Homo sapiens: one gene and its partners. The protein of the gene in region 4 interacts with the protein of the main gene of each other region in a pairwise test. Each region holds a gene or a part of one and is shown on either strand. Other genes may lie near its edges.

The links.
Region 1: the proteins of HNRNPUL1 (region 4) and KLHDC7B interact in binary tests that used the Homo sapiens proteins (3 or more experiments, as listed by UniProt).
Region 2: the proteins of HNRNPUL1 (region 4) and HNRNPF interact in a two-hybrid assay, tested with the Homo sapiens proteins (3 studies listed by BioGRID and IntAct).
Region 3: the proteins of HNRNPUL1 (region 4) and MAPK1IP1L interact in binary tests that used the Homo sapiens proteins (3 or more experiments, as listed by UniProt).

What each region holds. Positions count from the first base shown.
Region 1 is NC_000022.11:50,541,476-50,548,906, reverse strand, and holds the start of KLHDC7B (kelch domain-containing protein 7B), read right to left. Parts: upstream 3,009-7,431; 5' UTR 2,664-3,008; coding exon 1-2,663.
Region 2 is NC_000010.11:43,399,170-43,406,194, forward strand, and holds part of HNRNPF (heterogeneous nuclear ribonucleoprotein F), read right to left. Parts: intron 1-7,025.
Region 3 is NC_000014.9:55,061,622-55,068,646, forward strand, and holds part of MAPK1IP1L (MAPK-interacting and spindle-stabilizing protein-like), read left to right. Parts: intron 1-58; coding exon of another isoform or gene 59-62; coding exon 63-80; intron 81-996; coding exon 997-1,704; intron 1,705-2,994; coding exon 2,995-3,006; 3' UTR 3,007-7,025.
Region 4 is NC_000019.10:41,267,347-41,274,371, forward strand, and holds part of HNRNPUL1 (heterogeneous nuclear ribonucleoprotein U-like protein 1), read left to right. Parts: intron 1-876; coding exon 877-999; intron 1,000-4,735; coding exon 4,736-4,889; intron 4,890-6,635; coding exon 6,636-6,709; intron 6,710-7,025.

The DNA of each region.
Region 1 (7,431 bases), on a different chromosome or scaffold from region 4:
CTCATCAGCGCGTAGGTCTCCTGCGCCAGGCCGGGCTCTCCGTGCTGCTGGGCAAAGGCCAGCACGTCCAGGCAACTGCCCAGGTCCAGCCGCCGCCGCAGGGCTGCCGCCGTGGCGGGCTCCAGGGCCCGGGAGCTGGGCTTCCGGGGCCCCTCCACCACCCCCCAACCCCCGGGCCTCTGCAGAAACACCATGAGCTTCCGGGCCTCCTCCTGCTTTTCCGTGAGCGCCCCGCTGCGGCCGGCAGGGCTGCCCCCCTCCCCCGGCGCCTCCCCTTGAGGGTCCCCCGAGGCGGCCGGCCTGACCTCCTGCTCCGAGCTCGGGGCGATTTCGCACCTGCTGCGTTTCCGTAGCTGGGGTACCGGCTGTGAGCGCCTCGCAGAGGAGGAGGCCGCGGGGCCAGGCGGCCTCTGCGCGGGGGGCTGTGCGGGGCCCCTGGGCATCGCGGCTTGGGGCAGCGGGTCTAGACTTTTCTCCCTGGTTCCCTCTCCTCTTAGGCCTGGGGGAGGGTCTGGGCTGGGCGATCCGTTGGTCTCGGAGCTTCTTGGCTGTGGCTGACCTCCAGCCTCAACCAGGCCCCCTGTACCTGTCCCTATGACTGTCCCCACTGAAGAAGAGGGGCCGTGTCTGTCCTCAGAGTGTGTGGAAGTGCTGGGACCCACGGGGCTCCCGGGAACCGCCCTCGGGACACTCCCTTGGGGCCTGTCTTGCCTGGGGAAGGGGTGGCTTCTAAGAACCATGGCAATAAGGTTTCCCCAGCTGGCTGAGACCTGCCCCTCCTGGTAGCGCCTGGGGAGAGCCACACTCTCCTGAGGCTTTGACCCGTCAGCTGGGGCAGGGGATGCGGCTGGGGTTGGGGTTGGGGCTGAGGTGGGGGCTGGGGCAGGGGATGCGGCTGGGGTTGGGGCTGGAGTTGGAGCTGGGCTTAGGGCTGGGGTTGGGACTGGGGTTAGGGCTGGGGATGCGGCTGGGGTTAGGGCTGGAGTTGGAGCTGGGCTTAGGGCTGGGGTTGGGACTGGGGTTAGGGCTGGGGATGGGGGTGTGAGGGTTGGGACTGGGACTGGGGCTGGGGCTGGAGTTGCGGCTGCAGCTGGACTTGGGGCTGGGGCTGGGGTTGAAGTTGGAGCTGAGGTTGGAGCTGGGGCTGGGGCTGAGGTGGGGGATGAGGTTGAGGTGGTGGCTGAGGTTGGTGCTGAGCTGGGGGATGAAGCCAGGGCTGGGGCTAGGACTGAGGCTGGAGCTGAAGTTAAGACTTGGGCTGAGGCTGAACTTGGGGCTGGCGCCGCTCTGAGATTTTCGCCCACGGAAGGATCCTGGGTAACCTCCAGGGGCAAAAAGTCTGAAGGAGAGGGGAGAGTCAGGGCTTCAGGTGGGAACCCCGGGCCGGGAGCTGCGGGCGGGGAGGCGGAGCGCGGGCGAGGCTCACGGCTCCGGGAGGGCGCGCGGCTGTGGCCGGCTGCAGCCGGCTTTGCTTGCTCCGGGGGCCGGGTGGGCCCCAGGTCAGCGGCAGGACTGTTATCTCGGGAGCTGTCAGCCCCGGCCTCGCCGGCATCGTAGGCCCCTGTGGCACCCGGCCCTTGGGACGAGAGTGGGCGACCTTGAGGCGGACTCTCTAGCCAGGGGCGCGTGGAGTCTGGGGCTGGGCCAAAGCTCCGGGTGCCCGGGACCTCCCTGCTGACCCAGGGCCAGCCTCCTCCGGGGGCAGGGACCCCCGAGGCCTCCCTGCTCCAGCCACCCTTGGCCCCAGAGCCTTCCGTCTGAGACCCAGGCTGCAGGGCGCGGGGAGCGGGCAGCGCCGGGAGTGCGGGCTCCTGGGCGAGTGGGGGTCCTGTGGGGAGGCCGCGCGCGTGGGCGTCCAGGGCGGCGGCCCCGTCCACCGCGTCCCACACGCTCCCCGCGGCGCCCAGGCGGAGCGGGTCCAGTTTCCGGGGGCGGCGGGCTCTGTCTCCCGAGCCAGCGTCCATCCGCCGCCGCCGGCCCCGGCCTCTCCCCATCGAGCCCGAGGGCCCCGCGCCCGCCTGCCAGGGGCCAGTGTCCTGTTGCCCCGCGGGGCCTGCGGCCTGGCGAGAGGACGCCCTGACACCACCTGTCTCCGCCTCCGCTTCGCTGCCAGGGCTCCGAGGAGTGAAGTGGATCAGGAGGGGGGCGGACATCCCCCCTGCTTCGCTCCTGCCCAGGAGGGCAGTGCCTGGCCTGGGAGGCTCCTTTCCTTCCGCTCGGGGGGCCGCGGGGGTGGCACTGCCCCGTTGCTGTCCTAATGCCTCTCTGCGGGCCTCCTCGACAGCCGTCTTGAGTGGAAGCCGGGCCATGGCGGCCAGGCCCCCGCCCGGCGCTGCAGCAGGGACAGGGCTCTGCTGGCCGCGTCCTGGGGGCTCTGGTTTCCCCTGCCCTGGGCTCTGCCCCTCGCTGCCATCACTGACCTTAGACTTCGGTTGCAGGGCCAGCTCAGCTCCTCCTGCCTGATGAGGTTGAGCCCCGAGGGCTGTGGACACCGGTTCTGCCGCCTCTTGATCGTGCCCGGAGCCAAACCAGTGTAAGGCCAGCGCTGTGGCAGCCACCACAGCCAGCGCCAGGAGGGCCAGCACAGCACTATCCCAGTCATTGTCACTGTCCCAGTCCCAGCCCCAGAGGGGACCATCTGGCTCCAAGGTGCCCTGGATCATGGTTCAGGGCTGCAATAGAGGCCTGATGGCAGGCTGGCAGTGCATGCAGAGCACAGAGGCCTGGGCTGAGGCACCGGCCAGCGCCTGCCCCAAGGGCTGCCCAGTTAAGGTGGACCAGTCCTCCAGGGCCTGGGAATGGTGGGGTCTCTGCTTGCACTCAGGCCTGGGGGTGTCAGTAGGGCCTGGCTGCAGATATCAGGAGACAGCGAGGCTTATGGCAGGATAGGAGCCCAGGGTCTCTGCAAGCACCCCACCAGCTCCTGCCCTCTTCTCCTCCTCGTAGGCCCCAGGGTCCTCAGGCAGCGTTCCTGAGCTCTGTGCTGTCATCACAGCCAACCTGCTTCTGCCTGGTAGACCCTCACACCCCTAAATTTATTCCACACCCCACAGTCCCTCCTCTCAGCCTGGGCCCAGCTTCAGGGGGCTTGGCAGGGAAGGGTTACCCACAGGGAGATGTTATCTCTAGCTCTAGCAATGTGATGTGGCCCTGATGAAATCACCAGAAACCGGAGAGGCTGATTCCACTGTGGGCCAGCAGGGGAGGGGTGGGGGCCGTGCACGGGAGGGTGCAGGCTGTGCCTGACGGTGGTCTCTCAGGCTGAAGAGGGAGACCCTGGACACGGGTCCTGGCAGTGAGCATTATCATTGCAGGGGTGCTGTGGAGGTTTGTACTGGGGCACAGGGAGGGGGCATAGAGAGGAGACTGAGGCTCCCATAGCTCCTCCTCCAGCAGCTTTTGGACTCCTTACTCTGGGTTTACCAGACATGGGATAGGGTTATCAAGTCAAGAGAAAAAAAAAATTAATGGGATAAATAAAATCCAAACATATTTCTCTCTTTATGGCCAGGCTTATTTCAGCCCACCTAGACCTTCTAGGATCTCCTGGACCCCCTGCGCCCATCGAGAGTGTCTTGACTGCCCAGATGAGACTCTCACTGTGCCCCTGGAGAACCCTGAGCCCAGCCTGCCCCCTACTCCAGTTACCGCATCAGCCAGCACCTGGATCCCTTAGAAACCACCCCCCTCTGGCCCCAGGTGCTCTAATAGCCAGACTCTGGGTGTCTTCATCTCAGTCCTCAGCCTTCCCTTATCTGAGCTGAGGACTCGCCCTCGAGACCACATCCTGGCTGGTACCTCCTAGCCCTGGCTCAGGCCGGCATGTAGGTACTTCTGTTGGATGTGAGCACTTGCTTCCTGAGGGAGAAGCCTGGGCTCCTCCACCTGCTCCTTGCTTAATCCCATCTCAGGAGTGTCTCGGGCCAGGTGCCAGGTGAGGCTCAGACAAGAAAAAGAGCCTGGAGTCCCTGGGACAAAGGCAGGGCTCCCTGGAAAGTACCGTGTGTATTTTTCCTTCCTCTGGGACACAGCAGGCCTGGGGATTTCTCCCTTACTCAAGCAGCAAGGAGATGGCCTAGGAGTGTCCCTGGCACCCAGCCTGAACCCTACTGAGCCTCAGGTAACTCACCTCCCAGCTCCCCCTGGGACTATTAGATGACAGGGAGAGGGTGAGGGTGGGCCCCATGCCTTAAGGTGGACCTCAAGTTGAGGGAAGGCTTTCTAGACCGTGCCCTTATTCTCTGTCCCAGTCTCAGGCTCTGCCTCTTGGTTAAGTTTGGGGTCCAGAAACCTTCAGAGGATGGAGATGACACCCATAAATATTAGAGACTGAGTAGGGGGCGGGAAGCGGTGGCGGCAGCGCACCCCCGGGGTGCAACTGCCCTGGAACTCCAAGTGGTGGCTTCAAAACTGGATTAAAATTTATTTCCGCGAAACCCTGGAGTCACGGTCCGGCGCCGACTGGCGTTTTCTGCCGTAGACTGAGAACGCGTCAGGGATGGCTCCGTTGGCAGCGCGCGCGAGCGCCCCCGGGCCGCGCCTGGAGGGTTGACAGCGACTCGCGGGCGAACTGTGAACCCGCAGCCCCTGGGCTCCGAGCGCAAACCTGGCGACTGGGAGGGCCCGGGGAGCGGGTGAGCCAGCGCCAGCCCCGCCGGCCCCAGGAGCGCGAATTTCTCTACATTTCCGGCTGTGGCCGCAGTTGGAGGATGGGATCAAAACGGGCAAAAAAGTGCGACCTGGGCCGAGGTGTCGGATCGCCTCGAGGTGGGAGGCCGAGGTGTTGGATCGCCTGAGGTCAGCAGTTCGAGACCAGCCTGGCCGACAGGGAGAAACCCTGTCTTTACCGAAAATAGAAAAATTAGCCGGGCGTGGTGGCGGGCGCCTGTAATCCCAGCTACTCCAGAGGCTGAGGCAGGAGAATCGCTTGAACCCGGGGAGTTGCAGTGAGCCGAGATCGCGCCACTGCACTCCAGCCTGGGTGACAGAGCCAGACTCCATCTCAAAAAAAAGAAAAAAAGACACCAGCAAAGGGTTTTTTTCTGTTAATAACTAGGTCCCCCCAACCCCCCAAAAAGGAGGATGGTTAAAAGCAGAAAAGGCAAAAAATAAAGGCTTTTGGCCGGGCGTGGTGGCTCACACCTGTAATCTCAGCACTTTGGGAGGCCGAGGCAGGCAGATCACCTGAGGTCAGGCGTTCAAGACCAGCCTGGCCAACATGGTGAAACCCCTGCTCTACTTTAAAAAAAAAAAAAAATTAGTGGGGCATGGTGCCGGACACCTGTAATACTAGCCACTCAGAAGGCTGAGGCAGGAGAATCGCTTGAACCCGGGAGGCGGAGGTTTCAGTGAGCCGAGATCGCACCGCCACACTCCAGCCTGGGCGACAGAGCGAGACTCTGTCTTAAAAAATAAAATAAATAAACTCTTTTATATTTCAAAATCTGAAGACAAATCACTGTAGTGCAGATAAAATAAAACGTTCATATCATTTTATTATTTTAACGTGTTTCATATTATTTTAACGTGTGACATTAAACAATTTCAGGGCCGGGCGCGGTGGCTCAAGCCTGTAATCCCAGCACTGTGGGAGGCCGAGACGGGCGGATCACGAGGTCAGGAGATCGAGACCATCCTGGCTAACACGGTGAAACCCCATCTCTACTAAGAATACAAAAAAATTAGCCGGGCGCGGTGGCGGGCACCTGTAGTCCCAGCTACTCGGGAGGCTGAGGCAGGAGAATGGCGTGAACGCGGGAGGCGGAGGTTTCAGTGAGCCGAGATCGCGCCACTGCACTCCAGCCTGGGCGACAGAGCGAGACTCTGTCTCAAAAAATAAAATAAATAAAATAAAGTCTGTTATATTTCAAAATCTGAAGACAAATCACTGTAGTTCAGACAAAACCTTCATACCATTTTATTATTTAACGTGTTTCATATTATTTTAACGTGTGACATGAAACAATTTCAGGAAATTGTATTAGGTATTGCGCTCGTGTCTTCTTAGGCGTCCTCATCCCTTTTCACCTCGGAGCTCAGCGTCTTCCTCAGCAGCACTTCCATGTCATCTGCCCCGTGAAATCAGCCTAACGCCGTTTCTCAATGACGTGGATCGCCCTAGGCCACCGCAACCTTCCGGAAGCTCTCTCAGCTCAGTTCCCATTCTCCCACCATCTCTTGGTTCTCCTTCTACCTCACCGGTTGCTAGTCCTCCGCTTCGCAGCTGAAAATGTGCCCGGGGCCTACTGTGGGCCTAGCCAGGCCTGCTTACGCAGTGCAGTTTCCCATGAATGATGCCCAGTCATTATCACATAACCTGTGGCAAGCCAGCAAGATGGCCCTGGTGACAGCAAAAGAAACTGCACTAGGACCTGAATGTAGATCTCAGTCATGTTCCTTACTAACAGCACGTTTTGCAACCATGCGTTAAAGAAACATCTGACTCACAACAAAATTTTAAAGGGTTTATTTGAGTGAAAAGCAATTTATGAATTGGGGAACACCTGACTGAAAGAGCGTTAGTATTCCAGAGACAAAACATCAAGTGCAAGTTTTTATTGGGAAAATGTAGAAGCACAATAAAGAAATTATTTGATTGGTTACAGTTATAGAGTTGCTTTCTTTGGCTTATCCTGTTGGAAAGTCAGTAGTTATATAATCATGATAGTTGGTTACTTATGATTGGGTAGATTAAAATTTATCTCTGTCTAATGGAAGCATTTATCAGAAACAACTCAGCCAGGCATGGTGGCTCACGCCTATAATCCCAGCACTTTGGGTGGGAGGCTGAGGTGGGCAGATCACCTGAGGTCAGGAGTTCAAGACCAGCCTGGTCAACATAGTGAAACCCCATCTTTACAAAAATACAAAAATTAGCTGGGCATGATGGCAAGTGCCTGTAATCCCAGCTACTCGGGAGGGTGAGGTGGGAGAATTGCTTGAACCCGGTAGGCAGAAGTTGCAGTGAGCCAAGATTGCGCCATTGCACTCCAGCCTGGGCAACAGAGAAGACTCTGTCTCAAAAAAGAAAAAAAAGAAATGACTCATGCCTGTAATCCCAGCACTTTGGGTGTGAGGCCGAGGCAGGGCAGATGACTAGTCTTTGAGACCAGCCTGGGCAACATAGCAAGACCTTGTCTCTACTGAAAAACAAACAAACAAAATAATGGCTCAAGTTAAGTTTCACTTATGTTTTCAATTTAAGCAAGGCTGAAGTCACTTACGAGACCTAACTTGTTTTGTCTGCTTAGGGATTCTTCAGGCCCGGTCTCCATTTTAGTTTACTTAAACAGCCCGGGTGCAGTGGCTCACACCTGTAATCCCAGCACTTTGGGAGGCCAAGGCAGGTGGATCACCTGAGATCAGGAGTTGGAGACCAGCCTGGCCAACATGGTGAAACCCCGTCTCCACTAAAAATACAAAAAAATTAGC
Region 2 (7,025 bases), on a different chromosome or scaffold from region 4:
CCTGGGCTCAAATGATCCTCCCACCTTTAGCCTCCCCAACGTAGCTGGGACCACAGGTGCATGCCACCAAGCCGGGCTAATTTTTTTTTTAATTTTTTAGTAGAGGCAAGGTCTCTCTATGATGCCCAGACTGGTCTGTAACTCCTGGGCTCAACTGATCCACCTTGGCCTCCCAAAGTGCTAGGATTATAGGTATAAGCCACTGTGCCTGGCCCAAGGCAAGTTTTAATTATTGATCAGTCACCATAGGGTTCCTGCCTGTGAGGGAACAATGTGTGCAGAAGACTTGAGCCAGGGGTTGTATTGTGCAACTGCAGCTAGGTCTGAGATCAATGGTAGGAGATGACATAGCCTTAAAGGCCTGGTTTGGTGTTCAAAGGCCAGTGGGAAGGCATTTAATGGAATGTGGTGTGAAAGGAGTTTTGCTTTTTAACACAACAGTCTAGATGCTATCTGGAAAATGAATGGTGGGAAGAGATACATGGAGACAAGATGGGAAGGAATGAAACAAGTCTAGGAAGACTGGTGGGAGAAGAATGTGAAAGAATGTGTAATGTAGAGAAAAATGACTGAGTCTGGAGACTGACTGACTCACCAAGAAATACTACGCACCTAAAAGATACAGGAACTGTAGTGGTAAAGAGACACAGTTCCTGCCTTGGTGGGTCCAGTAACAGTGGAGTAGGAAATCAAGAAATGTACAAATATATGATGACAAATTTTAGAATGAACGAAAAACAGAAAATAGGCATTAGCTCAGATTGGGGTTCTGAGGAAGTGACATTTAAACAGACAGGAGCATGGGTGAGTGGGAACACTGAGTGATGAATTTCATGTAGAAAGAAGGGAAATTCTTTTTTCCTTGATAAATAGCTGAGGTTTAAAGTAGAAGCTGGCCAGGAGCAGTGGCTCAAGCCTGTAACTCCAGCACTTTGGGAGGCCGAGGTGGGAGGATCACTTGAGCCCAAGAGAGTTCGAGACCAGCCTGCGCAGTATAGTGAGACTCCCATCTCTATATAGGAAAAAGATAAAAACTGAGGGAAAAAAAAGAAGTTAAAAGCCCATTATTCTTTTTTCCTTCTGTACATTATCTCCCCTCTGGACACTTGTTCAAATTATTTATATTTTTTACCAAAGCCCTTTACTGGGATACATTTTGGTGCTGGATGCTTTGTATTCATATTCTTATTTCGTGGTGAATCCTTTAGATTGAAGAAATTTTAGGACACAGCTTCTGCTGCTCGTGTCTGTTCACCACATGAGAAGCACAAGATGCATCTTGGGGGCAAAAATTCCCCATCATGGTATATAGTATGTGAGCAGATCATAGACCATATTTGTTATGGATGTTTTCCTTTTCTGTTGGAAATATTGAAAATTGGGTTTAATGGCCTCAAAAGTATCTTCCAACCCAGCAATTTTATAAAATTCCTATTCAGTCACTCTTAAGTACTTCCTGCTGTCATGAACTCAAGAATTATGATACAAGACACTAATTCCATTTAAAAAAATGCACCAACGCACACATTTGTACTTAACTTTTCAGGGGCACATGTATCTGAAGTGTGAGAATTCTAACCCAATTCACACAACGTGCCAAATTCAATACACAGAGCTATCCTAAAAGCTATTAAGGACTGAGAAGTGGCCAGGCACAGTGGCTCATGCCTGTAATCCCAGCACTTTGGGAGGCCGAGGCGGGTGGATCACGAGGTCAGGAGGGCTAATACGGTGAAACCTCGTCTCTACTAAAAATACAAAAATTAGCCAAACGTGGTGGCAGGCACCTGTAGTCCCAGCTACTCAGGAGGCTGAGGCAGGAGAATGGTGTGAACCCGGGAGGCGGAACTTGCAGGGAGCCCAGATCGCACCACTGCACTCCAGCCTGGGCGATAGAGCGAGACTCCGTCTCAAAAAAAAAAAAGACTGAGAAGCTGCAGATGGAGCATATATTAACATTTTAAATGTTTACTCCATTATTACTACATTTATATCCACCAAAGGGGATCTGTCCTGATCTGCATGCAACAGGAAAGCTGTTTTCCATTACCATCTATCAGGTCCTTTCACTTACTTGCTGTAGCTAAGTCTGGGGGGATAACACACTGCTTCCCTCAGCGTTCATTTCTCAAAAGCTGTGTTACTAAAAAGCATCAAGAGTAGTATAATGTAATGTTAGATAAATTTTATCTATACTGTTTGTACTGAAATTAATATAAGGGACAAATTCTGACCGATCATAAAACAAGCAACCATTGCTGTTTGATATTGACTGCATTTTGCAAATGCCCAAGAATCATGATATCTAAGGTAAATGTTCCTTAAAACGTTAATAAAAAGCAAAACTGCTACTAGACTTCTGTTCCTAAAAATAAAATCTGTTCTTAACTGAGGGCAAATATCATTATTTGGATTAGCTGGAGTAACTGGAAATAATATCCAAAGAAATGGGTGTGTATAGATTCCGCTAAACAAAAATACAATTGATAGGAAGATCAATTTTGTTTTTCCCAGACCACCTCCTGTACCTCTCTCCCTTGAGCAAGCAGCCCCTAAATAGGTGCATAGTCAAACCCTGGAGCTGGAGAGAAAGGAGGCCTGTGGGGTATCCTCAGCCCCCTGAGGAAGGTACATTCCTTGGGATGGGAATTCTTCCTGAAGCCTCCATGGAAACATGACACCTTAGTCAGGTTCCAAGCAGCAGGCCCTGAGCTGAGACTGCTGGCCCTGAGCTGTGCTGCCCAGGGGACCACTGCATTCTGCCTTGGGGGAATTGTGCAGAACAGAGAGATGGAAGGAGGAAAGGAACATGACAATTTACAGAAGAGGGGCTCCGGCACCCAGAAATAACATACCACACCTCAGGTTTCAGGGAACAAGAAGTGCTAGACAAAAACCATAATGATTTTAACAGGAAAAAAAGAGCAACTTCAGATACCACTCCATTACAAAACTTAAAAAAAAAAACTTTCTGGAACTAAAACTGAGTTTTAAATTTAAAAGTTAGTAATGAATTCAAAGAAAGGAAAACGAAGTAGAATAAACATCAAAACAGAAACAATGGGGGAGAAGATAAGAGATTTGGAGGACATACTTTTTCCAAAGCAGTTTCCTCTATACTTTAGGAGTTTTACCAACACACGCCTGTGCTGTGTCTTTTCAAAATATCCTAATGGGAACTACAGGGATCTTAAGCCAGGAAAATTCACTTCTAATCCTTTATCGCTTCTCTTGCTGCCTCCATCTGTGTCTTTTTCTCCTTCTGGAATTCCTACTATTCACATTATTTCTCCTGCCTGAAAAGAAACCAACCCTATCAACACCCTCATCTTAAGACTTCTAGCCTCCATAACCGTGAGAAAATTTGTTACTAGTCTGTATTACTTTGCATGGCAGCCCTAGCATACTAATACAACGTGTTACCAAACCAGACAAAAACATCACAAGAAAACTAACTTCTGAATTCTATGTACTTTAAGAGGATCGTATATGGTATCTAACACCAACTTAAATTAGAAAAGATATGTATTTGTCATAAACATCATAATTCTATTAGATGGCACTATTCTAATCAAATAACTTATGATGGATTTATCGGGATATAACAGTAAGTAAGAGTATCTGTATTTGTATTAGGTGAAGCATTTTGTCTAACAGGAGGCATACCGTTAGGATAAATCTAATAGGAGTCTTAATCTGTCATGCCTTTTCTTAATTATGATGGCTTTTTTTTTTTAAACGGGGTCTTGCTTTCTTGCTCAGGGTGGTATGCAGTACTGCAATCACAACTCACTGCATCCTCTATGTCTTTACAAGTGTTCGCTATCATACCTGGCTAATTAAAAATTCTGTTTTTGAAAAGATAGGGTCTTGCCATCTTGCCCAGGCTTATCTTGAACTCCTGAGCTCAAACCATCATTCCACTCTCGGTTCACTGCAACCTCCACCTCCTGAGTTCAAGCAATTCTCCTGCCTCAGCCTGGGATTACAGATGCACACCACCACACCTGGCAAATTTTTGTATTTTTAGTAGAGATGGGGTTTCGCCACATTGGCCAGGCTGGTCTTGGACTCCTGGCCTCAAGCAATCCGCCTGCCTTGGCCCTGCTGGGATTAAAGGTGTGAACCACCCCGCCCAGCCTGTGTCATTTTCAAGAGATCTTTTTCCTAGCCCCAGCCCATATAGTTATCTGAACTTACAAAGCGTTGATGTTCTTCTCTAAATTTTTACACTTACATCTACAATGAACTTGGAATTGATTTTTTCATTTCCAAAAGAGTTTTACAATTAATCAAGTATCACAGGCTAATTTCACTCAAGAACTCAGATGCAAAAGTCCAAACCAAGTATCAGTCAACCTAATCCAGCAATATATAAAGCGATATTATGACCAAGTTGGATTTCAGGAATGCAAGTGTAGTTGATCATTTCAAACTCAATCACTGCAATTTCTCATACTGATGTATCAATGGAGACAAAGTATAGAGGTACTTTTTTAATGTTTTATGAGAAATGCTAAGCTGAATTTATGTCAAGGAAGAACTGAGGCCATATATAGTGGCTCACACCTGTAATCCCAGCACTTTGGGAGGCCGAGGTGGGCAGATCACTTGAGCTCAGGAGACCACCCTGGGCGACATGGCAAAACCCCTTCTCTACAAAAAATACAAAAAAAAATAGCTGGGCATGTGGCACACACCTGTAATCCCAGCTACTTGGGGGGATGAGGCAGGATTGCCTGAGCCCAGGAGGTTGAGGCTGCAGTGAGCTCTGTCCACACCAGGGCACTCCAGTGTGGGCATCAAAGTGAAACCCTTTCTCGAAAAAAAAAAATGTGGAGGGCTGGGCGTGGTGGGTGACTCACGCCTGTAATCCCAGCACTTTGGGAGGCCAAGGCAGGTGGATCACTTGAGGTCAGGAGTTTGAGACCAGCCTGGCCAACATGGTGAAACCCCCCACCCCCTGCCACTCCACCATCTCTACTATTAGATGGGCGTGGTGGTGCTGCACACCTGTAATCCCAGCTGCTCACGAGCCTGAGAATCGCCTGAACCCAGGAGGCGGAGGCTGCAGTGAGCCTGGATCCTGCCACTGCACTCCAGCCTGGGTGACAGAGTGAGAATCCGTCTATAAAAAAAAAAAAAAAGGAAAACAAAAACAAAAGTACATCTTAGAGCGATCACATGAAAAAGTATTCCTGCTAATAAATGAAAAGGAATCGATTATTAAAATATCACTAATTTGAAAACCATTTAAGAAAATAATGGATCTACATAATGATCATTAATAGCTGCTGTAACATGACAAAAGAGAAGATACCAACCAATATGTGCCTCCGGTTGGAGCACAGCACCTCAAGTAAGTTTTCTTTCCAAAAACTCTCATCTGAATCAAAACTACCTCCAGACTGGGTGCGGTGGCTCACACCAGTAATCCCAGCACTTTGGGAGGCTGAGGCGGGTGGATCACCTGAGGTCAGGAGGTTGAGACCAGCCTGACCAACAAGTTGATACTCCGTCTCTACTAAAAATACCCCTGTAATCCCAGTTACTCAGGAGGCTGAGGCAAGAGAATTGCTTGAACCCAGGAGGCAGTGAGACAAGATCACACCATTGCACTCCAGCCTGGGCAACAAAACCAAAACTCCGTCTCAAAAACAAAAATAAAACCAAAACCAAAAACTACCTCTAGAGGTAACTATCACTTTACAGGAAATATAAAGAACAGACACTCAAAGACCACCACGGAAAAACAATCAGAAAAATGCGAAGTGTGGGGAAGGAATGCTGCAAGACAGCCCGACAAATATAACGGGGGATGGAGCCTTTTAAGAAAGGGGAACCTCTAGATGATCACTTACACAGCATCCATTCACCACGCTTGAAATGTGTAAGTGTAAAACTCACACTGGATTTTGACAAGTTCACAGGATTTTGTTTTTAATTATTTTAGTCAAGATCATGGAGAAATGAAAAAGTGTTTTAAAATTACATGCAAAATAGTAGTGGATATATATTAGGTTAAATTATTAATACAATGAATCATGTTTCCTTTTACCACTAAAGAATATAAGATTACATTTATAGCATACATTATATTTCTATTGGACAGTGCTGCTCTGAATTTAAAAAGTTATCTACAAAATATAAGGTGTGACTTTGGATCCTGACTCAAACCAACCAGCTGTTTAAAATATTTAATACATGCCGGGCGCGGTGGCTCACGCCTGTAATCCCAGCACTTTGGGAGGCCGAGGCCGGCGGATCACGAGGTCAGGAGATCGAGACCATCCCTGCTAACATGATGAAACCCCGCCTCTACTAAAAATACAAAAAATTAGCCGGGCATGGTGGCGGCCGCCTGTAGTCCCAGCAACTCGGGAGGCTGAGGCAGGAGAATGGCATTAACCCGGGAGATGGAGTTTGCAGTGAGCTGAGATTGTGCCACTGCACTCCAGCCTGGGTGACAAGAGCAAGATTCCGTCTCGGAAAAAAAAAAAAATTTAATACAGAAACACTTAAACCCTGGATACTTGATATTTTGGAATGTATTTTTAGGCATGACAGCAGTATCATGGTTAGGTTTTAAAAGTTCTTAGAAATACTGCGGATTTATTTATTAATAAAGACCTTATTGGTCTGGGATTTGCTGTAAAATAAGCCAGGGCGGTCTTGGCTGAGCTCAGTTCTCCCTCTGCCCACCCTGTTGCCCTCCACAAGAACCGTAGCTCAGGGCAACTAAGACAGGGCAAGGGCCCTGGCAGGGGAGGGGTGTCCCGGTCCAACTTGGGACCCAGTTGGGACTGGGTCCCAAGTCCCAATTGTGTCCCTGGACACATGACTTCTCCCAACCTCCATTTTCTCATCTGAAACATGGGGCTAATAGCAAGCCCTTCTGGAGTAGTCCTGAGCATGTAATTAGAAAATGGAGTAAAACTTCTAGGACCTAGTAAGAGTCAACTAATGTGGTTCTCCCGAAGAGCAGAGAACCAGAGCTCAGTGGGGGAGAGGGAATTAGAGAAGTC
Region 3 (7,025 bases), on a different chromosome or scaffold from region 4:
ATGGTGAACACTGATTTTGAAATTTTTCTTTCTTCCTTCATTTCTTTTCTTTTTTTAGGAAAATGTCTGATGAATTTTCGGTAAGTTGATCAGTTTATCTGTGATAAGTTTTTCATCTCTTAAGAAAAACAACATGGTCCTAACTGGGCTACGTAAATCTTTTCACTTAAAAGAGATGCTTTAACCAGGCATGGTGGTGTGCACCTGTAGTCCTAGCTACTTGGGAGGATCCCTTGACCCCAAGAGTTTCAGGCTGCAGTGAGCCATGATTGTGCCATTGCACTCCTGCCTGGGTGACAGAGTGAGACTCTGTCTATAAATAAATAAAAGAGATGCTTTTTGTGATTCTTGGCTTTGGGGGTAGTAAAGAGATTTTGATAGGTGATTTGCCTTAGTTTACTGAGATAATAGCATGTTTGGAAATGTTTCCTGTATTTATGAAAATATGTATTTCTTTAAATGAAAATTTAAGATGTTACTTCTGTTGTTCTCTTTTACCCTGATAGTATTAATAGCCAACATTTATTAGAAATTATTATATACCAGGCACTCTGTGAAAGTGTACTACATGAAATATCATATTTAAGCCTCAAGTTAACCCTAAAACAGTTTTGAAACTGAAGAGGCTCTATCTCAGAGTATGTAGCTCCTTTGAGGTTAAGCCAGGATTCAAATCCATATCTTGACTGTTAGTTCTATCTTCTTAATTACTGTATTTTGTTGTATTAATACAGCAGAGAAATGAAGCACAATATGATTAGTTGTATTTAGAAAACGAGTTTCTCTGAAGAATTTGCACTGTAAAGTTGATACGCAAAGTAGCATCTCAAGGTTTATGTTAAATAGAGTATTTTTTAAATGACTAGCTTAGCTTTTGAAGATATTCTTGAGGTTTATAATCCCTGCCCCTATAGGTTACTATTCTCTGTGGGTTTATAATGGTGTTCGATGTAACTTTTCCCTAGATAGGAAAGACGTATCTGTTTTGTGTTCCAGTTGGCAGATGCACTACCTGAACACTCCCCTGCCAAAACCTCTGCTGTGAGCAATACAAAACCTGGCCAACCTCCTCAAGGCTGGCCAGGCTCCAACCCTTGGAATAATCCGAGTGCTCCATCTTCAGTGCCATCTGGACTCCCACCAAGTGCAACACCCTCCACTGTGCCTTTTGGACCAGCACCAACAGGAATGTATCCCTCCGTGCCTCCCACCGGACCACCTCCAGGACCCCCAGCACCCTTTCCTCCTTCCGGACCATCATGTCCCCCACCTGGTGGTCCTTATCCAGCCCCAACTGTGCCGGGCCCTGGCCCCACAGGGCCATATCCTACACCAAATATGCCCTTTCCAGAGCTACCCAGACCATATGGTGCACCCACAGATCCAGCTGCAGCTGGTCCTTTAGGTCCATGGGGATCCATGTCTTCTGGACCTTGGGCGCCAGGAATGGGAGGGCAGTATCCTACCCCTAATATGCCATATCCATCTCCAGGCCCATATCCCGCTCCTCCTCCTCCCCAAGCCCCTGGGGCAGCACCACCTGTTCCATGGGGCACCGTTCCACCAGGAGCCTGGGGACCACCAGCACCATATCCTGCCCCTACAGGATCGTATCCCACACCAGGACTCTATCCTACTCCCAGTAATCCTTTCCAAGTGCCTTCAGGACCTTCTGGTGCTCCACCAATGCCTGGTGGCCCCCATGTGAGTGTTCAATTTGTTATTTAAAGTGTACTAATTGTACATAGCACAACTGACATTGTTTCTCCCCAGTTTTGGATGGAAGATTAAGAAGGCTTTTAAGTTTTTAAAAGAGGGTGTGTGTATATTAAATAAGTAAATTTCAAACCTTCAGGTAAAGCATTTAAAAGGATGAAAGCACTGTTTTAAGTATTCCTTGTGCTAAAAAGAAGAATTTTCCAAAGATCCCCAAAGACTTTGTAATGTAGTAAGCAGTGTCCTCAATAGCATCCTTTAGGTAAACTCTGAGATTCATTTCATTGGGCTTTTTGTTTTATTATTATTATTTCTCAGTATTGTTTTATAGCATCACACCAAAGTACAGTTCAGTAAAAGCAGTCTCTACCTGTCTAGCTTGATAGAGGTAGATTTTTAGAGAATCCAAGGCAATGAGTAGGTAATGTTCATCTTTCAAGCAGTTCTCGAGCTCAAGATTACACCCCTATTCTTTATTGTCAGTTACATGTAATGCTTTATGCTTTACTGTCAGACAACCCAGTGTGGGGTTAACATCTTAGTTGAGGAGCCTGCCTTGGTCATATAACCAAATGGAAAAGTACCCCACTTCCCCTGTGAGGTAAGCCAAACGAGTATCCAAACGCAGAGTAAAGATTTTCCTTAGGAAAAAAAATCTGTTAACTCTTTTTTTTTTTTTTTTTTTTTTTTTTTTTTGAGACAGTCTTGCTCTGTCACCCAGGCAAGAGTGCAGTCTCTCGGCTCGCTGCAATCTCTACCTCTCAGGTTCAAGCGATTCTCCTGAGTAGCTGGGATTACAGGCGTGTGCCACCACACCGGCTCATTTTTGTATTTTTAGTAGAGATGGAGTTTCACCATGTTGGCCAGGCTGGTCTTGAACTCCTGACCTCAAGTGATCCGCCTGCTTCAGCCTCCCAAAGTGCTGGGATTACAGGCCTGAGCCACCATGCCCAGCCAGGAAAAAAAAAAAATCTGTTAACTCTTAGTACGAAAATAACTAGCCAGATCTCTGATTAGATTAGTCAAACATCCAATCCAGCTATAAAGGAAAAGAAATCTTTAAAGTACCCCTAAAACTTCCTCCTTGCATTAGTGTAATTTCTTTCTTGCTATATATATTATCTAAAAATATTTGTTTTGCAAAGTGTATGCCAGAGTAAATGATGTGACTTGCTGTTTGGATTTATTAAGCAATAAATTTACTTTAAGCCACAGTAAGGAGTTAATAAACTCCATTTGCAAAATCTAGAAGTTGACTTTTTCTTTTTTCTATTGCAGTCTTACCATTAAGTTAACAATGGACGAAGAGATGACGCTTTGCTTTTTGAAGTACATGTATATGCACATGAATGCATATATAAAAATTGCTGGTTTCACTATTAGAGGGCATTCATGAAAGAACAACTCTTGCACCTCTCAGAGAAGATAACTGCCTCTTGTACTTGGATGCGTAGTACATCATATGTATACAATCAGATAAAAGCATAGAAGTAAATCATTCGGATGTGATTTTTATTTGGTTTTCATGGAAAGTTAAAGTGATAAAGTATATTGAATAGTTCTTTGACAGAATTTGTTTAAACTATGAAACTACACACTTAAAAATCTAAGATGTGGATTATTGTTAGAATCTGCAACTTCATTGGCAAATTATTTCAAGTATTTTTCTATAATCACTTTCCCCTTCTAAATAAATAAACTTCGAGAATAACCCATCATAATCCAAACAAATGATGCCTCAACATTTTGAGCTGCTCTGTCGGACAAATAAACCTGGTCCTCTTGAGGTTATATTTTGGATATACATTTTTAAACTGTCAGTAATTATTGTCAGATGTGGAGTTCAATAGCCAGCCAGTGTTCATTTTTATCCTTGAGCTTTTAGTAAAAACTTCCTGGTTTTATTTTTAGTCATTGGGTCATACAGCACTAAAGTCTGCTATTTATGGAAACTAACTTTTTTGTTTTTAATCCAGGCCAACATGTATGTAAATTAAATTTTTAGATAATTGATTATCTCTTTGTACTACTTGAGATTTGATTATGAGATGTGCATATTGCTTTGGGAAGAGCTCGAGGAAGGAAATAATTCTCTCCTTTGTTTTGAACCTCAAACTAGATAAACCCTAGGAATTGCTTAACTGCAACAAGTAATTTTCATTCCCACAAAAACCTGAGGCAGCTCTTTTGCCCAGAGCGTTCCCTGTAGCCACCCCCACCCCACTTGCCCTTGGTTCTTTAGAAGGAGCACACACATCCCTTGATTCCTCCCTGATGTGGTAAACTGGCACACTCCAGGGGTCTAAAACATAAAACAGTTGTGTTTAGGGAACCTTAAGTCATGCAGACATGACTGTTCTCTTTGTACAAGTGTGAATCAAAATATGTATCTCTTTTTCAGAGTCTGGTTAAGCTATGTCATTGTCTACTGCATAGTTTCCTGAGTCTGTTTGTAAAGTGCTTATGGCTAACAGTTCAGTTCTGTATTTGTTGACAGGTAAATAAGTGGAGTTGAGTGCCATCTTTGAAAAAATTACCCTCTAGCTCTAACACTGAAAATAATAATAAATTGTAGATCTCTGCAACTAAGTTTAAAGCAGTGTGACTGTGTTGCTTAAATATCAAGTATTGTTTATAACCACCAAAAAAAAAAAGCCCTGGTAGTTTTTTGGCACCTTATGTTTAAATCAGATTCTTAGATTTGGAGTAGACCTGACCTTGTTATTTATTAGATAACATTTTGAATGTATCCATTGGATTTCTAAAATGTATTGTGAATTTCTCAGACAAACAGGATTTATGCTGGAGCTCTGTTTTGCTTAGAAATAAAATATTTAGTAGTTTATTTCTGCTCTAATTAAAATGTCAAGAATGCCAAATGCTGCCAGTTTTTTGGTTTGATAGCTACCTCCTTCTAAGAAAGCAAAATGGTTACCTTTGAGAGGAACATTCAGTGTTTAATCATCCCTTATGTTAACTAGATGATAGATTCAAGCTTTTAGAAATGAGAAAGTAGAAACTAATTTGTTAAGATATTTTCAGACTGCGGAATGTTGTTAGCTTTTTCTTTCACTTCTCTTCAAGGACAGGTGTTAGCTGTCTACAATACTGTTGAACTCTGTTGTCAAAGTAGCCCCCTTAGTCTACAAGGCAGGTAGCCTTGGCTTGAATTATCAATATCAAAATGTCAGTTAACCATGGAGGGATAAAGTAATGTGAAAAGTGAGATGGCTGCAAAGATAGCTCTCCTTACAGTTATTTTGGCTGTCCTACATTGGGATAAGCTGACAAATTAGCAGTATTTAGTTTAACACTGGAGCAAATATAATTTGAGTAGGAAGAAGAGATAGCAGGTTTGGGAATCTATAATTATGAAGTCCATTGATTTTGGGAGAAAATCTGTTGCTAAAGGATTTGAAGGGCCATGAACACAATTTGGGATTATTACTCCCTATAAGTATAATAATTTTGCTAGTGACCCATACTGTCCAGTGTGCCCTAAATCATACTGCTATTGTACTCCCTTTGTTTTCAAGGACTTTGCAACTGGTATTTGGGGGAGATTTTTTTTTTTTTTTGAGACGGAGTCTCGCTCTGTCGCCCATGCTGGAGTGCAGTGGTGCTATCTTGGTTCACTGCAAGCTCCATCTCCCAGGTTCACACCATTCTCCTGCCTCAGCCTCCCAAGCAGCTGGGACTACAGGTGCCCGCCACCATGCCCGGCTAATTTTTTTTTTTTTTTTTTTTTAGTAGAGATGGGGTTTCACTGTGTTAGCCAGGATGGTCTCGATCTCCTGACCTCGTGATCTGCCCGCCTTGGCTTCCCAAAGTGCTGGGATTACAGGCGTGAGCCACCACGTCCGGCCGATTTTTTTTTTTTTTTTTAATGTAAGAATGGAGATAAAAGGGATAATATAATTTGCTTTTATATTGTTATTTTTGTAAAGCATCTTTTCTTCAATTCTTGTTGGCATTCTGGGCCAAAATATTTCAGGTTGGTTCGGTGTGGAGTTAAGAAAAGCAGGCGTTTTAGTGGAGAAATGGGGAACAGCATCAAGAAAGGCTTTTTTCCTTTTTTCTTTTTTTTTTGGAGACAGAGTCTTGCCCTGTCACCCAGGCTGGAGTGCAATGGCGTGATCTTGGCTCGCTGCAACCTCTGCCTCCAGGTTCAAACGATTCTTCTGCCTCAGCCTCCCAAGTAGCTGGGATTACAGGTGCCCGCCACCACACCCATTTTTGTATTTTTAGTAGAGACGGGGGTTTCACCATGTTGGCCAGGGTGGTCTGAAACTCCTGACCTCGTGATCCGCCTGCCTCAGCCTCCCAAAGTGCTGAGATTACAGGCGTGAGCCACCATGCGTGACCTTTTTTTCTTTTTAAAAGGGAACAATGTTGCTTTCAAAACAAGACATGCTAGGCTGAAACTGATTTATGGAAAAGACTGCTTGTTAGCAAGTATATTTGGTCTTGAGGGGGATACAGATTATAGAATATGCTGACATTTGGGCTTCAGAGGAAGAATTTTCAAATCTAATGGAAATAGTTGAGGTGTTCAGGAATGCTGTTTCTTGGAGTTGGAAGCTTAGGTTTTGAAATGTTGAAACCAAAAAGACAAAAATTAAAACATAGACCTTAGGTCGTCATTCACACCCGGTTCTCAAGAATCAAGTGGAGCACTTCAAAGACCTTGGCTTGTCTGTCCCATCCTGCCACTTTCTCATCTTTTCATGCTTTTGAAGACACCATTTACAGCTCTGACTCAGCCCTATTTTGTGTAAAGTAATATATTGATTATTCAGAAATAGACAATACATTTTTTAATTACCCAAGGACTGACTGTTTTGTGCATTTTACTGTTGGTTGTCTTCAGTAGAGAATAGTAATAGGGCAGAGAAAAGTATATATTTTGCCTCAGTCAGTCCCACCACCACAATGGACTATTGGGATATTTTCTAAAAAACCAATCAATTTGCCCATGATTACCTCACAAATAATTAGTGCTACCTGGGGTACTCTCAAATATACAGCTTTTGAAACTGTAGATGAAAAAAGCTCTACTCAGAGTTTTTGTCAAGACTGTGCCTGGGTTGAATATCAGTCAATTGCCTACACTTCTAAACAATAAGTGCCAATGTCTCAATTTTCTCACCCTGAATGATAGAAGCTAGCTTTATCAAATGCCAAGGTTAGAAAGCCTGGAAATAAAACTTAAGCACAGACATTCAAGTTTTTGAAAAGCATAAGCCTAAATTCAGATAAATCACACTGATATATTGTACTATGCATAGAAAGTTGTAGGTGGCGTTCAG
Region 4 (7,025 bases):
TTTGTGGGAAGAGGAGCATTGTGCTTGGAGCCTGGAAGCAGCAGAATAGTTTGAAAGGGCCCCATATTCCAATTAAGGAGATAATGCTATTTCTTCCTCTCTCCCTTACTTGCTACAACAAAGTCCTTTGAGCCCCCTTCATGCCTCCCTTAAGCCCTCCTTCAACCTTGGTAAACAGACCGGTAGCAAACCACATGACCTGTGACTTTCCTCCCTTTGGGCTGCACCTGGTTTGTGCCCAGATGTATTTATCCTCTGAGAAGGAATCCGATCAGTTAGCAAGTGGCAGAATAGTCTCTCCTTCCCTTTGGTTCTGGCTCACGGCTCCTGGCATAGCCACTGGTAGGGCCCTTGGGGCCCTAACTGAGAGCTAGCCCCTGGGGAGGAGAGCCTGTATGCTGCCCATCCTAGCTTTCTAAAGTTCTCTCTGGGTTTGGCTGCAAGGTTCTTGAGGGAATTTCTGGTTTTAGTTCCACCTCTGAGCTTTCACACGTGTTATCCCAACCCCAGTAACATTCTCCATTCTCATCACTGAGTCATTACCTGTGTATCCTTTGAATCAAGGCTTATCTGTTATTTTCCAGGTCCCTTTCTTCATTCCTGGTACTACTTTGTAGCCTTCAACACAATCATATTAAATTTTTGTGTGTCTTTAAGATTTGTCTGTCTCACTAAACTGAAGGCTTCAGTGGGGCAAGCTTGTCTTCAGCTGTATCCCAGGCTCTGGAGTATAGTATGCATGCCATGAATAGTTAATATTATTATTCTTACCACTCTTAGTTGAGCTCCTGGACCTGCAGATGCCTTCTGGATGCTTTGGTCCAGGGTTCTTCATGAACCGCCCCTCTAATTGGCCATTTTTAATTTTGTTTTAAGATGCCATGGACAATATTACCAGGCAGAACCAATTCTACGATACCCAAGTCATCAAACAAGAAAACGAGTCAGGCTACGAGAGGAGACCACTGGAAATGGAGCAGCAGCAGGCCTATCGTCCAGGTAGGAAAATACACATGGTTCATCTCTTTGGATGGAAACAATCTACATGGAGCCTTTACCCCCTGCTTAGAGCGGGTCTTCCCAGAGAAACTGTGCATCTTTTTTCTTGGGCAGTTCATCTAAACATTGTCACTCTGGCAAGAATTGTTTAAAGGAAAGATCTCAGTCCTATTTCCAAGTGTTGGGAGAGGGGAGGTTCCATGGTATCTGTAAAAAAGTGATGTTAGTATCAGCCGGGTGTGGTGGCTCCCTCCTGTAATCCCAGCACTTTGGGAGGCCGAGGCAGGTGGATCACCTGAGGTCTGGAGTTCGAGACCAGCCTGGCCAATATGGTGAAACCCGTCTCTACTAAAAATACAAAAATTAGCCAGGCATGGTGGCAGGCACCTGTAATCCCAGCTACTTGGGAGGCTGAGGCAGGAGAATCACTTGAACCCAGGAGGCGGAGGTTGCAGTGAGCCGAGATCGCGTCATTGCACTTCACTCAGTCTGGGCAACAAGAGTGAAACTGCATCTCAAAAAAAAAAAGATGTTAGTATAAGCACCCTGGAGAGTTGAGACCCCTAGACTAATACTTGAATCTTATTTAGAATCTTAGAATGGGGGAGCCAGAAAGAGCCTTCTAAGTCTAATCTGGTATTTCTCATGTTCTGAAGATTATTGTTTCAGGGGATATTATTAGGGGATTCTCAGAAAAGGGTTCCTTAGCCAAATGTGTCTGGAAACTGTAGCATGTGCTATATCGTCTCTTGGAAATTCACTGTGCTTGTTAGAACATTAAAGGCTCTGAGAAGTCCAGAATTTAAAAAAAAAAAAAGAAAGTGTGTGTCAGGCCTCAGGCCAGGTGCGCTGGCTCATACCTATAATTCCAACACTTTGGGAGGCCAAGGTAGTAGGATCATTTGAGACCAGGAGTTCCAGACCAGACTGGGCAACATAGTGAGACCCCTTCTCTACAAAAAATTTAAAAATTAGCCAGGCATGGCTATGACTGACTACATGCACACACCTATAGTTAAAGCTACTCAGGAGACAAAGGTAGGAGGATCACTTGAGCCCAGGAGTTTGAGGCTGCTGTGAGCTATGATTACACTACTACACTCCAGCCTGGGTGACAGTGCAAGACCCTGTCACGAAAAAAAAAAAAAAAAAAAAAAACCTAAAATTAAAAGTAGGTTAGAACACAGTGGCTCATGCTTGTAATCCTAGCGCTTTAGGAGGCCAAGTCAGGAGGATCACTTGAGCCTAGGAATCCAAGACTAGCCTGGCAACATAGTGAGACCCCTGTTGTCTTTAGAAAAAATTAAAAATTGCCTGAGCATGGTGACATGCTTGTAGTCCCAGCTACTCAGAAGACTGAGTCAGGAGGATCACTTGAGCCCAGGAGTTCAAGGCTGCAGTAAGCTATGATCGTGCACGGCACTGCAGCCTGGGCGACAGGAAGACCTTGCCTTAAAAATAAAAACAGGCCGAGTGCGATGGCTGTTACATGCCTGTAATCCCAACACTTTGGGAGGCTGAGGTGGGAGGATTGCTTGAGTCCAGGAGTTCAAGACCAGCCTGGGCAACATAACCCTGTCTCTATAAAAAATAAAAATATTACCTGAGCATGGTTGCACAATCCTATAGCCCCAGCTACTCTTTTTTTTTTTTTGAGACGAAGTCTCGCTCTTGTTCCCCAGGCTGGAGGGCGATGGCGCGATCTCAGCTCACTGCAACCTCCGCCTCTCGGGTTCAAGCGATTCTCCTGCCTCAGCCTCCCAAGTAGCTGAGATTTCAGGCGCCTGCCACCACACCTGGCTAATTTTTGTATTTTCAGTAGTGACGGGGTTTTACCATGTTGGCCAGGCTGGTCTCAAACTCTTGACCTCAGGTGATCCGCCCGCCTCAGCCTCCCAAAGTTCTGGGGTTACAGGCGTGAGCCACTGAACCCGGCCAAGTCCCACCTACTCTGGACCCTGAGGTGGGAGGATCACTTGAGCTAGGAAGTTGAGGCTCCATGAGCCATGATGGCAGCACTGCATTCCAGCCTGGGCAACAGTAAGCCTCTGTCTCCAAAAAAATTTTTTTTTTAATTAAATTTAAAAACCTTGTGTCTTCTTGGGCTGGTGTTGCTGAAAATATTTTTTTTAATAAAAAAATAGACAAAAAACCTTGTGTTGTATCGTTTAAACTTAGGATTTCCCAATCATGTTAAGTATATGTCTTTACAGAACAAAGTTCCCCATGATGCCAACTCTCCCTTCCCTTTTTTTTTTTTTTTTTTTTGAGATGGAGTCTCGCTCTGTTGCCCAGGCTGGAGTACAATGGTGTGATCTTGGCTCACTGCAACCTCTGCCTCCCAGGTTCAAGTGATTCTCCTGCCTCAGCCTCCTAAGTAGTTGGGACTACGGGCGTGCCACCACACCCAGCTAATTTTTTGTGTGTTTTTAGTAGATGTGGGGTTTCACCATGTTGGCCAGGATGGTCTCAATCTCCTGACCTCATGATCTGCCTGCCTCGGCCTCCCAGAGTGCTGGGATTACAGGTGTAAGCCACTGCGCCTGGCCTCTCCTCCCCATTTTATAGATTGAGGAGTTGGCTTGTCCGATGGCAGAGCTGGGGCTACAACCTAGCATACTTGCTCCCAGGCTAGTCCTCTTGGTTAATAAGCAGCATTCCTTATCATTTGTGCCTTACTATTTGGAAAGCAGGGTCCCACTATTGAGAACTGATGGAGCCCGGACTGACCCCCAGTTTTGTGCTGCTTTTACTGTGTTGTGGCCTCCCAGTGCCTTTTCTTAGTGTATCTGGTTGATTTTGTCTAACGCCATTCTGGTTCATCCACAAAGTTAAATCCCCAGACATTTCTTGTGGGTGGCTCAGAACTTTACTGAATGTAGGTTAAACCGCAGATTTGTGTCAGGCTCTGTGAGACTTGTAGGATCATTCAGCCACAGGAGAATATTTTCTGTGCCGTTATCCACAGACATTCATCAGGAGCCCTGTGTGAGCCCAACCTATTGCTGGGAACCAGGGAAGCTCTCTTCAGGATGGCTGAGCACCATCCCAGCCCTAGAGAACCAGGAGACTTTTCTGAGAGATGTGGTCCACATGCCGAAGCTGGGGAGTGATCCAAAATGGTCTGGGGTTGAATGCAGAAATGAGTAGATGTGAATGAGCTTCAGCATCAGGGATTAATGCTGTGGGAGAAATGAAGGTAGCCTACATCTGTGGTTTGCTCTTGGTTAGGCACTGATTCCTGGAGTCTGCCTGAGACTAGGACTTACCCGTGGTCCACAGCACGGTATCCCATCCTGACTTTCTGTTAATGGTATGACTTAAAGAGGTTATTGCACCTATGGGATGGCTTAACCGGAGTGATTCTGGCCTCTTTTGGTAGGGTAACTAAAGCCCGTAGAGTTAGCTGCAGGACCACAGTACCCTGTTGAATTCATCCTCTCCCCCTCCCTTGCCAGACTGAAGAAGCTTTGTAAGAACTAAGGCAGAGAGGTTCTTTGGGAAGAGAAATTGGAGAATTTAGGGTCATGGTATCTCAGATCCTAACCCTGTTCTCCAGTATGGCCTTCTTGGCTGGCTCAGCAGGCTTCTGTTGAACTCAGCAAGCTGCCTGTGCCCAGCCCTTCATCACTGTAGTGAGGATCCTGCTCACATCTCTCAAGGGAAAAGGGACCAGAAAAGTGATAGCTGGGGAGCTTGCGAGTGTCTTGACCATCTGAATTTGTCTTGACAATAGAAATGAAGACAGAGATGAAGCAAGGAGCACCCACCAGCTTCCTCCCGCCTGAAGCTTCTCAACTCAAGCCAGACAGGCAGCAATTCCAGAGTCGAAAGAGGCCTTATGAAGAAAACCGGGGACGGGGGTACTTTGAGCACCGAGAGGATAGGAGGTGGGTGTATGAGGCAGCAGTCACCCTTGCTCTGGTAGGTTTCTATATCCATAGCCTCGTGCTTGCTGGGGACATTTGCACTAACCTAGAGGGGCTGAGTAAAGATTCCCTCTGCTTTCACACTCTTCCTGTCCCTTCCCGTACTTGCTACCAGATTCAGCTTTCCTAAACTTTTGGTCCTTCCCCCAGTTCCTCCCTTCTTACCTGCAGGGTAACTTCTAAATATCTTAGACTTTCACGCGTGAGATGCCAGCCTGCCTGTTCTGTCCTTTGCCTTACTGCCCCTGCAGTCAGCTGCTTGATACCCGTAATGAAAGAAATATCTGTTTCCTAACACTACTCCCAAATACACATCCTCTTCCCATTCATCCACTCATTCAGTCAGTTCTCACAGTGCTGTCACGAAGTGCCCACTCTTGGGCTGGACACTAGCAACATACAGATGGACAGTGGGTTTTGCCTTCTGTTGTTCCAGTGTGGGGACTCAGACACATACACTAGTAAGCCACAACCTCTGAGGTGAGTAGTCAGGATGCAGGTGAGTTTCAGGAGTTCAGAAGAGGGAGCAGCCTCTGCTTTGGTCATTTCCCTTCCCTAACAAGCCCTTCCCTCCTTTCCCTCCAGACCAAGTCCTTCCCTTCCCTCCTTCCTTCCTTCAGTTCCTGTCTGAAGCCTTTTGCAATTATGAAAACTAGGAATGGCCACTGTACTCATCTGGACTAGTCATCTGACATTCTATTTCCTATCTGGCGGAGTCCACCTTCTAACTAGCTTGTTACTGTCTGAGACAGGGCCTGGATCTCACAGGCTATGATTTAAGTTAGGACATGGATCCCACCTCATATGGGGTTCTTCCACTGCCTCCCACAGAGCAGAAGCCTGGAAGCTACTTACTGATGGAGAGCAAAGGAAGAACACTCGCTCTGATCCTGGGCTGGCAGGGAAAGTTTCCTAGAATGGACTTAACATGTGATGAGCACAGCTCATCCATGTTAGCCCTGGCCTGGCGAGGCCAGAGGGGCCCTCCACCAGAGGGAAGCCTGCTGCTGGGAGAGTCAGCAGCCAAATGGGCATGGGCTCCCCATCTGTGCATGCAGTGCACTGCGACCACCCAGACTGTCCAGGCAGGACCCTGAGTGTTAGATTCTACCTTTCTACCCTTCTTCCTCGTTCCTGTACAGCAGAAACCAACAGTGTTAAGTCCCTTTTTTAGCGTTTTGGTAGGAAAATGAATATCGTTTATAATTTAGGACACTGAAAAAAATGGGTCATCTCAAATTCTTACAGATGTAGGATTTTAAGAAGCCTGGTACATGGATAGATAGTAATTATTGGGATTTATATAGGCTCTTGCACATTCCCCTTCCTGGCCAGCACCCTTTTGGGATACCACAGCCTCCAAACAGTAACAGAGATCAGTGTGGAAGTGGTTGTCAACATGCAGAGGGTATGGATCAGAATCTTTGGGTGTAAAAAAAGAGTGAAAAAATTCCCTAAATGATTCTGATGCCCCCCTTCAGCAGAGCATGCCTTCTTCAATCCCTGTCTCCACCGTAGGAGTTGACGGTCATTGCTCTCCTTGCAAGGATGTAGGGTTTCAGAGTTCTTTTGCCCACCTCTGTGGAAGGAAATGGAGATTCAGGAAGCAGTCTGGAGGCCACTCATAGATTACAGCAGAACATTCATTTTCTTTCCTTTGTGCTCATCCATTGTTCTTGTATGACTTAACCCCTGTTTCTAATACAGGGGCCGCTCTCCTCAGCCTCCTGCTGAAGAGGATGAAGATGACTTTGATGATACCCTTGTTGCTATTGACACCTGTAAGTCTTTGGAGTGTGCATCTAATTCTGCCTTACAGTCAGTATGGGGAAATTGTGGTCTTGACCTTCACCAGAATCCCTGCTGGGCACCGTCCAAAGACATTGTTAGTCCACATGTGAGACACGGCTTAGCTCTGGAGCAAGAGTACTGGTTTGGAGGCAAAAGACCTACTCCCAACTCTAGCAGTGGGACCCTGGGCAAGTCATTCTACTTCTCTGAGCTTCCCTTCAGGAAGGAGTAAATCTGCTGTACTAACCTCAGAGGATTTTCAGGGAGACTCCTCAGTGGATATAGGAGCAATCTGGAAAACCCTGA